3 linked regions of the Homo sapiens genome follow. Changing the gene in region 1 together with any one later gene gives a genetic interaction. Each region holds a gene or a part of one and is shown in the gene's direction. Other genes may lie near its edges.

The links.
Region 2: changes in NF1 (region 1) and HADHB together harm fitness more than expected from each alone (negative genetic interaction), as found in Homo sapiens cells (one large-scale study listed by BioGRID).
Region 3: changes in NF1 (region 1) and NDUFC1 together harm fitness more than expected from each alone (negative genetic interaction), as found in Homo sapiens cells (one large-scale study listed by BioGRID).

What each region holds. Positions count from the first base shown.
Region 1 is NC_000017.11:31,335,948-31,339,602, forward strand, and holds part of NF1 (neurofibromin), read left to right. Parts: intron 1-385; coding exon 386-526; intron 527-687; coding exon 688-967; intron 968-1,420; coding exon 1,421-1,635; intron 1,636-1,871; coding exon 1,872-1,933; intron 1,934-2,077; coding exon 2,078-2,192; intron 2,193-2,756; coding exon 2,757-2,858; intron 2,859-3,655. UniProt on the Homo sapiens protein: Stimulates the GTPase activity of Ras. NF1 shows greater affinity for Ras GAP, but lower specific activity. May be a regulator of Ras activity.
Region 2 is NC_000002.12:26,272,406-26,276,060, forward strand, and holds part of HADHB (trifunctional enzyme subunit beta, mitochondrial isoform 1 precursor), read left to right. Parts: intron 1-1,245; coding exon 1,246-1,345; intron 1,346-3,655. UniProt on the Homo sapiens protein: Mitochondrial trifunctional enzyme catalyzes the last three of the four reactions of the mitochondrial beta-oxidation pathway.
Region 3 is NC_000004.12:139,295,837-139,299,491, reverse strand, and holds part of NDUFC1 (NADH dehydrogenase [ubiquinone] 1 subunit C1, mitochondrial precursor), read left to right. Parts: intron 1-2,048; 5' UTR 2,049-2,107; intron 2,108-3,124; exon of another isoform or gene 3,125-3,160; intron 3,161-3,531; 5' UTR 3,532-3,655. UniProt on the Homo sapiens protein: Accessory subunit of the mitochondrial membrane respiratory chain NADH dehydrogenase (Complex I), that is believed not to be involved in catalysis. Complex I functions in the transfer of electrons from NADH to the respiratory chain.

The sequences.
Region 1 (3,655 bases):
TCCCCAAGTGCTGGGATTACAAGCGTGAGCCACTGCACCCAGCTCTGTATTTTCAAATTACTATTTTATATTGATGCTACATTACTGTCTTAGAAAAGCATAGAGATACTTTGCAAGTGACTGAAGATAGTATTGATAGAGATTTAAAATTTTTGAATACCAATCTCTTAATCTCTGAAGGAGTCAAATGAATATACTCATCCTTTACTGGATATTTTATAATAAATTGTATTTACTGACAGGCCTGTAAATAAAATCTAGTATTTTTGAGGCCTCAGGTAAAATAGAATTTTCATATTGATTAGGCTGTTCCAATGAATATTTTTTAATTAAAAATTAAATTGGTAGAGTGATTAAAAACATGTTATTTTCCTTCTTCAACTAGATTACAGATCTGCTTGATGTTGTACTAGACAGTTTCATCAAAACCAGTGCAACAGGTGGCTTGGGATCAATAAAAGCTGAGGTGATGGCAGATACTGCTGTAGCTTTGGCTTCTGGAAATGTGAAATTGGTTTCAAGCAAGGTAATCACTTTTCTTTTGCCTTCTGTACTATAGCATATCTGTTTTATCATCAGGAGGTTTTTTGTTTTGTAATTACTTTTAAATTAAACTGAACTTTTTTGTGCTAAAACTTTGAGTCCCATGTTTTTTTTTTTAAAAAAAAAAATCCTGCTTCTTTACAGGTTATTGGAAGGATGTGCAAAATAATTGACAAGACATGCTTATCTCCAACTCCTACTTTAGAACAACATCTTATGTGGGATGATATTGCTATTTTAGCACGCTACATGCTGATGCTGTCCTTCAACAATTCCCTTGATGTGGCAGCTCATCTTCCCTACCTCTTCCACGTTGTTACTTTCTTAGTAGCCACAGGTCCGCTCTCCCTTAGAGCTTCCACACATGGACTGGTCATTAATATCATTCACTCTCTGTGTACTTGTTCACAGCTTCATTTTAGTGGTAAGTTCTAGGAAAGGAATTTGTGTTTACCAGTTCCTTTCTCCATTTTACTTCACCTGATCAATATAGATTATCTTATTTATGTTTGTGCTCTAACACCAAGTTGCTAATTTAAGCCTCCAGTAATGACATGAAATATTACCAAAAAGAAAATAAATTACTTCCATTCCATATCAAGCTATAGTAAAGATTTTCTATGCATACTTGTCATGTAGAGTTATCCCATAAGCGGAATACTCAGTGCCAGTTGACCATGTTCAGTTACCAGCACTAATTTGTAGATAAATGAAGCAAGGAGCATTAATACAATGTATCTAGAGGTTTGATTTAGGGAACATGATTATGTAATTTTTATATGGTATTCAAATTTTCTAAATTCAAAATGAAACATGGAACTTTAGAAATTAAAAAGTAATATTTTCTGTCTTTACTTGTTCCTTTATTCTCTTACAGAAGAGACCAAGCAAGTTTTGAGACTCAGTCTGACAGAGTTCTCATTACCCAAATTTTACTTGCTGTTTGGCATTAGCAAAGTCAAGTCAGCTGCTGTCATTGCCTTCCGTTCCAGTTACCGGGACAGGTCATTCTCTCCTGGCTCCTATGAGAGAGAGACTTTTGCTTTGACATCCTTGGAAACAGTCACAGAAGCTTTGTTGGAGATCATGGAGGTATAGAAGCCAAAATGATAAGAAACTAAGTTAAAATCTTTTTTTAAAAATATGTTAATACTATATAGAAGAAATATTGGTTTATTGTGCTATTTTGTACTTAATGCTTAAATAAAAACACTTGCATGGACTGTGTTATTGGTAACAGGTCACTTAATGACATCATAATAAACATTATTTAAACAGTTCTAAAAACATTTATGTACAATATGTATTCAGAGTATCCCCTTTTTTAGGCATGCATGAGAGATATTCCAACGTGCAAGTGGCTGGACCAGTGGACAGAACTAGCTCAAAGGTATGTCCTAAATTAAATATAAGTTGTAAAAATATGCATATTGTTGAAAATACAGCTATTACTGTATGATCAATGTTATAATTTATTATTTAGTATATATAAACACAAAGGTTTTTATAAGTTCTGTGGATCTTTTAATTGCAGATTTGCATTCCAATATAATCCATCCCTGCAACCAAGAGCTCTTGTTGTCTTTGGGTGTATTAGCAAACGAGTGTCTCATGGGCAGATAAAGCAGATAATCCGTATTCTTAGCAAGGTACCTGTTCCGCCCTCACTTCTCCCAAATATTTATGGTTCTCAAGTTGTAAAGCATATCTTTCATTTTTCTAAAAGACGTTTAAATTTGAGGTCAATGAAATATCTTATATGTTACTTATTAAGCCTTTAAAATGTATTTTGATTATTTATTGTAATTCTTTGAAGAAGTCTTCTCTAAAGAAGCTGTCTTTATATGTAAACTCTGATTACTTCATTAAGGAAGATGTCTTTAAAATAAAATATGTTGCCTCTTTTGCTAAGCAGGTACACTTAGTATTTTACCAGTTTTCAAAGCATTTAATTATATGGTAAGACTATAGCCTTGCATAAAATTATTTAATTTGTAATTACTATAATAATGTCTGACTCTTATAATGTAGAAATGTCAAAAAATAAGAAAACAAATGTACATTAAGCTAGCTACCAAGATCACCATAGCATGAGAAATCATTCTAGCATTTATTAAATAAGTAAATGTTCCTGAATTCATTCCGAGATTCAGTTTAGGAGTTAATGTTTTATTTCAATGAAAGTAAAATAAAAAATTCTGTTTTCCTAAAAGGCACTTGAGAGTTGCTTAAAAGGACCTGACACTTACAACAGTCAAGTTCTGATAGAAGCTACAGTAATAGCACTAACCAAATTACAGCCACTTCTTAATAAGGTAATTACTGTATAGAAAATGAGTGCATTCATTTTGGGTATCAGTGTTGAATGTTACTTTCTTTCAAAGAGTTTAGAAAATAAGATGAATTGAGAATAAGTTATAAAGAAAAAACTATAGTTAAAGTAGAACCTCTTAAAGTTTAGTTGTTTGAAGTAGTCATATTAGAAGAAGAGTAAGTATGGATAGTATGTTCTCAAGCGCTTGTAAGTTTTTGGTCTCATCAGTGCTAAAGGAAAGATAGGTATATATTCTTAATTATTTTATCTTATAACTATTAATTATCTGCTATTGCCAAGTACTGTTTTAGGCGCTAGAGATAGAGTACTAACAAAGCCCATAAAACTCACTGCCTTCATGGAGCTTACTTTCTGGGGTGGGTGTGGAGGTTGGGGAGTGAATGGATAATGAAGTAAACAAAATACGTAGTATGTTAGTGATTATTACTATGGAGAAATTAAAGCTGGGAGAAGTATACTTGATCGTCATAAGAGTTTGGGTGCCAAATGAAGATTATATTTAAAAGGAGTAAAATGAAGTGGCCACTGTTTTAGGATGGTCTGACCTTATCCCATTTTTATATTTAAGATATCTGGAAATCATGTTTTTGTATTAATAAAATGAAAAAGATTCGATAATGGCATGGTATTACCATCCAGTTCTAAAGTGGTTTAATTCTGTGATTTGAGTACAAAGGTATGCCAGACTTGGGAGAAATAACAGAGAAATAATACCTGTTATATTCCTGGTTTGTCTACAAGCATTCTAATTTTGTATTATACAAAATGGTTCTCTGG
Region 2 (3,655 bases), on another chromosome or scaffold:
CACGATCTCGGCTCACTGCAGCCTCCGCCTCCCAGGTTCAAGCAATTCTCCTGCCTCAGCCTTCCGAGTAGCTGGAATTACAGGCACATGCCACCAGTCTTGGCTAATTTTTTTTGTATTTTTAGTAGAGACGGGGTTTTGCTGTGTTAGCCAGGCTGGTCTCGAACTCCTGTCCTCAAGTGATCCGCCTGCCTCGGCCTCCCAAAGTGCTAGGATTACAGGCTTAAACCACTGTGCCCGGCTGATATGGTCCCATTTGTCTTTGAGTGCTTCCTTACTTTTGGCACAAAAAAGATGGAAATTCACTTTGTACTTTCTTCTGGACCTGGTATCAGTCATTTCTTAAAAAACCTTTTGTCCTTTTAATGGGGAATGGCATTTAGAAACCAAATCTGGGGCCGGGTATAGTGGCTTACACCTATAATCCCAGCACTTTGGGAGGCCAAGGCTGGTGGATCACTTGCAGTCAGGAGTCCGAGACCAGCCTGGCTAACATGGTGAACCCTGTTTCTACTAAAAATACAAAAATAAGCCAGGCATCATGGCAGGCGCTTGTAGCCCCAGCTACTCAGGAGGCTGAGGTGAGAGAACCACTTAAACCCAGGAGGTGGAGGTTGCAGTGAGCCGAGATTGTGCCAGTACACTCCATCCAGCCTGGGTGAAAGGGCAAGATTCTTATCTCAAAAAAAAAAAAAGGAAACCAAGTCTGGGTTCAGGGAGTGCTCATTCCTACTGGAGTGTTATTGTGTCTAGTTTCTATTCATGGGCACAACTAGAATATATGTATTATTTCAATCATTTGTTGATACTGATATTTCAAACTAAAATTTAACATACCCAGGACTTCTTTTTTTTTAATTTTTTTTAATAGTCTTAAGGGAGACTTTGCTTTATCTCTTTGATTGAATATTTGTCTCTCTTTTTCACTGCAAACTTTGGTTTCTACTAACATTAATTAACATTAATTTATAGGTTTCTTATCTATTTTATTCTATTCCAAATTATTTTTTATTCTCTAACTTCTCATTACCAATTCAGCATCAAATGTTGACTTTTAAAATCACTCTTTCATTCATTTCTTCTTTGAGAAGGTGCCAAATGCTTGTCAAATTAAAGAAAAGATACAGTCTCTGTCCTTTTAAATTCAAGGCTAACCTTTTTCAAGGAGCGCAGTGTTTTGTGTGATGATCTCTGGCACTGCCTTGATGTGTGAAATGTTTCTTTGCTTTGGATTTCTACTTCCAGGGGTTTGTTGCATCGGACCAGTGTCCCTAAGGAAGTAGTTGATTATATCATCTTTGGTACAGTTATTCAGGAAGTGAAAACAAGCAATGTGGCTAGAGAGGTGAGTAAAACAAACTTTATGTTGTTTAAAGAGTGATAGGAGAATCACTTTGAATTTCAATTAATAGAAGTTACTTTACAAAAGCCTTTAAAATCTATTGAGTTACATTTGACCTAAAATGTGATTTTACAGCTTGGGTAATGTGTTATTTAATATGTAAAAGAATTCTAATATAAATCAAATGACATACACTATATTAGTGTATATCCATACTTTACTGTAAATCAAATAAATTATTTGAGCTGGTTTAGGACATTGTCTCTTGTGTTAGGAAAATAGAGATCAGCAAAGTGTGGCTGATAGTATTTTTAGTAATGTTAGATATCATGGCTTCCAATTAATTTAAAATTTCAACATGTTGCAGAGAACTAATTTCATAACTTGACTTTTGTTAGCTGGAAGTAGCCTTGCTTACTCATTTGTTCCCATCAACTAGATGGCACGTAAGGCAGCTTGGCTTTTTAAAAACTATTTCACAGGAGTTTACTTTTGCCCTAGTTGGCATAGCTCCATGTAGTGTCGATTGGGCAACCAAGATAATGACAGGCCTTGGAACTTCTAGGATGTGTCCTACAGGCAAATCCAAACACGTCTTCTGGGCTGTGTTTTCATTTAAAATCGATTGGATGAAGTTGGCACCAAAAGCACATTTCATTGTACTCAGTATTTTCCCTAGTTCTGGTCTGTGCTTGCCATATTGTTGGGTTCAGTATCACTGTCAACTGAGAGACAAGGGCACATGAGCAGGACTGAAAGTATTTGTTCTGTTCCACCTCTGTACCTGGCAGAAATGTTAGAACTGCCAAAGGCCTGGCATGACTGAAGCCTACGAAACTAACTGTGTGCTGTTGAGGGGCAGGAAGGAATTAACAATAGGAAGAGATTTTATTTCCCTTCTGAAATTTTTTGTTTTTCCTTGAACCTTGACATTTCTGAATGTTTCAAATATGATAATTTCATGAGTACATCAAGCTGCTCATAATACATTTTCAACTTTTATATTCTGAAAATAACCTATTACTTTTATAAGAGCACTTAAGATGTAAATAGTAAATTTTTTTGCTGTTTTCTCCTCTTGCTCAGCTTTTTATCCCATCCTTTCTTCCTTCTCCTCCTCCTCAAAAAATAAAAAAATAAATAAATAAAAATAAATGTTTCCATTTTCTCTGTAATTCAGTTCTTTTTTTCCTAAAACTAAAGCCATAATGTTTTCCTCTGAAATTTTTCCTGGAAATTTTACATCCATTTGCAGATCTCAGCTATTGATTGACAGGAGGTAGATTCCCTCTGCCTGCCCTGTACTAATACCAGTTATGTTGTGCTCCAGGTAATTTTTGCAGCATCTGCAGGGAGAGATTGGGTTGAGGGGGATACATTATGAGAATGTCACTCTAAAGCTGTATTGCAACCTAAAAGCTAACATAATTTCCAGCCAAAGAATTTCTTAGGCCCTATTGCCTGTATTAATAATGTTAATATACAGTCCTTGCAACCTAAAAGCTAACATAATTTTCAGCCAAAGAGTTTCTTAGGCCCTATTGCCTGTATTAATAATGTTAATATACAGTCCTAAAAGGCTCCTGGTGTTCATGAACCTGACTTTGTTGAAAGGTTCAGCATATTTCCCTGTTCTCCAGCTTAAAGACATCTTCCTCCTTTTCCCTTAGTGCCCTGAGAGCTATTCAAATTTCAATAGAAGTGTGTGGACAAGGGTCACCAATAGCCACCTCTATTTAAAGCTCCTTCCGTCCTGAGAGTCATCTAGGGCCAAGGGCAACACAAATTAGAAAGGCCCTTGTGAGAATCGAGCCATTGCAACCTAAGTGCCCCTTTTACACTTGCCCTTTGCAGAGCTCTTCCCTCCTGCCCCCCTGAGATACTTGCGTCTCTCTTCCTTTCGGATTGGTTTACGTTGAGAGGCTGATGCACAGGTGCCTGGCAGAAGTTCTCAACAAAGCAGGTTGGGCATTTAGTATCAGGCCTACCTGGAAAGACCAGAATGAGGTCATGTTGCAGTTACATCACTAACACATTTCTGTTTCTATAGATTATGGTAAATAGCATAAAAGTAAGTAAGTATAAAGGTAAAAATCAGTTAAGAGACATTGAATTTCTAATTGAGACTTTGGAAACATTTATTTTACTAAATTATAGGAGAGTGTGTTCTGAGGATAATTAATAGTTTCAGGGAAAGAATACTAAAAATGAATTCCCTATAATGGGATCCAGTATTTCATAGTAAATATTGTGTGGGTGTGTATGTGGGAGGAAATCTGGAAGCTTTATTTCTAAAGTAAAACTTTAATATTA
Region 3 (3,655 bases), on another chromosome or scaffold:
GATAGTTAATTCATCTTACCCCATGTGCTTGCATGTCACTATGTTCCAAATGCTAACTCTAAAAAATATTAACCAAAAAGAAAGAAATAAAATCATTTACCTTGCAAACTTTAATTCTACAAAAGGGATATGTTGAGTGAAATTTCTCCATATATGTAAGATGTTCTCTATTGAGACTGTTACATCTTATTAAGTACTTGGATCTTATTTAAAAAAAAAAAAAAGGCTGGGCTTGGTGGCTCACACCTGTAATCCCAGCACTTTGGGAGGCTGAGGCGGGCGGATCACAAGGTCAGGAGTTCAAGACCAGCCTGACCAACATGGTGAAACCCCGTCTCTACTAAAAATACAAAAATTAGCCGGGTGTGGTGGTGCGTGCCTGTAACCCCAGCTATCCAGGAGGCTGAGGCAAGACAATCGCTTGAACCTGGGAGGTGGAGGTTGCAGTGAGCCAAGATCGCACCACTGCACTCCAGCCTGGACAACAGAGTGAGACTACATCTCAAAAAAAAAAACATAGGCCAGGCATAATGCCTCATACCTATAATCCCGACACTGGGAGGCTGAGGCAGGAAGATCGCTTGAGCCCAGAAGTTTGAGACCAACCTGGGCAACATAGTGAGACCCTGTCTCTACAAAAAAATTTTAAAATTTGCCAGGTGTGGTGCTGTGAGCCTGTAGTCCCAGCTACTTTGTGGGCTTGGGTGGGAAGATTCCTTCGGCCCCAGAGGTCGAGACTGCAGTGAGCTGTGATGACACCTCTGCTCTCCGGCCTGGGCAACAGAGCTGAGACCTTGTTCCAAAAAAAAAAAAAGAATATAAAAGAAATTCATGTATTTGTCACCTAGATTTAACAAATGTTAACAATTTGCTATTGCTTCTGGGTTTTTTTTGTGTGTGTGTATAGACAGGATTTCTCAATGTTGCCCAGGCTACTCTTGAACTCCTGGGCTTAAGCAATCCACCCACCGCAGCCTCCCAAAGTGCTGGGATTATAGATGTGAGCCCCAACGCCCGGCCTGCTGCTGAATCTTTTTTTTTTTTTTTTTTTTTGAGACAGAGTTTCGCTCTTGTCGCCCAGGCTAGAGTGCAATGGTGCGATCTCAGCTCACCGCAACTCTGCCTCCTGGGTTCAAGCGATTTTCCTGCCTCAGCCTCCCGAGTAGCTGGAATTACAGGCATGCACCACCATGCCCGGCTAATTTTGTATTTTTAGTAGAGACAGGGTTTCTCCATGTTGGTCAGGCTGGTCTTGAACTCCCGACCTCAGGTGATCCGCCCGCCTCGGCCTCCCAAAGTGCTGGGATTACAGGCGTGAGCCAGGGCGCCCAGCTGCTGAGTCTTAAAAAATAAAAACTTATAGATACATCTTGGTGTGTGGGGAGGTGGGAGGTTGTTGGTTTTTTTCTTTTGTTTTGTTTTTGTGACAGGGTCTCACTGTGTCACCGAGGCTGGAGTACAGTGGCAGAGTCTTGGCTTACTGTAGCCTCACCTCCCAGGTCCAAGCGATCTTCCAACCTCAGCCTCCCGAGTAGCTGGAACCACAGACATGCACCACCACACCCAGCTAATTTTTTAAAAAATCATTTTGTAGAGATAGTTATCTACCTATGTTGCACAGGCCAGTCTTGACCTCCTGGACTCAGGCAATCCATTTACCTTGTTCTCACAAAGTGCTAGGATTAGAGGCCTGAGCCACTGTGACTGGCCCAAGTCCTAAGTTTGATTCATAGTATTCTCATGCATGCTGTATCAATAAAAATAGGGATTTTTTGTTTTGTTTTTTGCATTTTATACTGTTTTTCAATTCTTGCTCTTTTTTTACCTTCCTTGGGAGATGTGATTTTTTCCCAGTGGAAAAATCTTGGACTGAAACTTTGCTTTTCTAGCTGCTAACTCAAATCCTCTCTCTTTTCACCTGGATCATAAATAAGATTTTAGTGTTCAAATTCTGAAGATGCTTACATGAATGTTATGAAGCAACTTCTAACAAAATATTATAGATATTAGTTCCTAGCTGGAATTACTTAATCAGGATTCTTTTCTAGATGCAGTTTCACATACAGCTGGGTACTCCAAGTGTACAGTTCCCATCAGCTCTAATATGGTGAGAAAAATGTGCTTATACTTCATCACTTTCCCAAAATACACACTAGTAAAAGGATACAAGGGCCAAAGCTCTGAAAAAGAACAAAGCAGTCTTTCTCAATAGCAGTACTGAAATTAGTAATTTGCTTACTGGTTCTGAATACTCTGACTAAAGATAGCATCTGTTTCAACTTGTTGGATACTAGCAAAAGCTTCATCAGGACAAGCTTCCAACGGATGGTGTAGAAAGGATATACAACTGACAGGTTGCTGAGTGGACAATAAGTGGCGAACCAACAACTGGCTCAGCACATTCATTGGGTAGTTTACTTACTTGAGCATGAGTCCAGGAGGCTCAAACTAGGTTACAAACTAAAGTGACTCACAATTTAGCAATCCATTTAGCCACCATTTGCATGTTAAAATGAGCCAGAAAACACAGTGCAATTAATTGACTTTTTGGTCAATAATTTTTGGTTAAAAAAGATCTTAAAATAACATTGCTAAAGAGAATATAGGAGATTTGCTAACATTTATTTTGGTTTTAAAATTAATGACATAAAGTTTAAAGGATTAGTTTTAAAGGGTCAAAATGTATTGTCTGTTACCTATAAATATTTTTACTGGTCTTTAGACATCAGATTGAACTGAATTGAATGTACAAAGATCTGGCTCAACTGTGCAAGATAAAACCTATTCCTCAGAACGATGTCTTTAATAGGCAAAACCAAATAAATTGTTTACTACTACCAGACACTTGTTTAAGCTTCTCAGCAACCCTATAGGTTTTATGTTACAGATGTAAAACTTAGGTATAGAGAGGTTAAGTAATTTGCCTAGAAATCATAGAGCTAAAAAGTGGTGAGCAGAATGGCTTTGAACGCTGATTCTACAGCTTATGGTCTAGGGTGGTCCAAGTCTGTTAGGTGGGCTAATGAGGATCACTAGATCTGGAGTCAGAAGACCTCAAACTGTATCCCACCTCTGCCATCTGTGTGATCTTAAGCCTACCTAAGGCACTAATTCTACTTCACAGGTTTGTGAGGCTTCAGTATGATCGTGAGTGTAAGTGGTAAGTGTTAAGAGATCTTTTCAACTGTAAAATATAATATGTCACCTTGGATGAGTAGCTGTCTTCTTTAAGCTTCATCTGTAAATTGAGGCTTATAACCACGGCATGATATGTGCTCGTTTTGAAGATGAAATAAGACAATGAATGTAAACCATATGATACATTAATGCACCGTGCCTGGACCACAGAATTCAATCCAAATGCTAGTTATTATTCAGCACGACACTTTTCTTTCTTCTGGCTCATGTAGGAAAATTTTAATAAACCTCTTGATGAATAGCCGTAGAGATGGGGTGAAAAACCCCCAGAGGACAGAGAATAGGTAAACTCTTTTTTCTTTTAATTATTTTCTTCCTAATTCCACTGTATAGACAGAAGGCTGAGGCCGGGGTGCTAGAGAACCTTGCCGTGCTGGAATTCACGTTGACGCCCCCACGGAGCTCTGCTGCAGAGCCCTCGAGTCCCGCACTTCCGGCCGCCAGGTGGCGCTGGTTC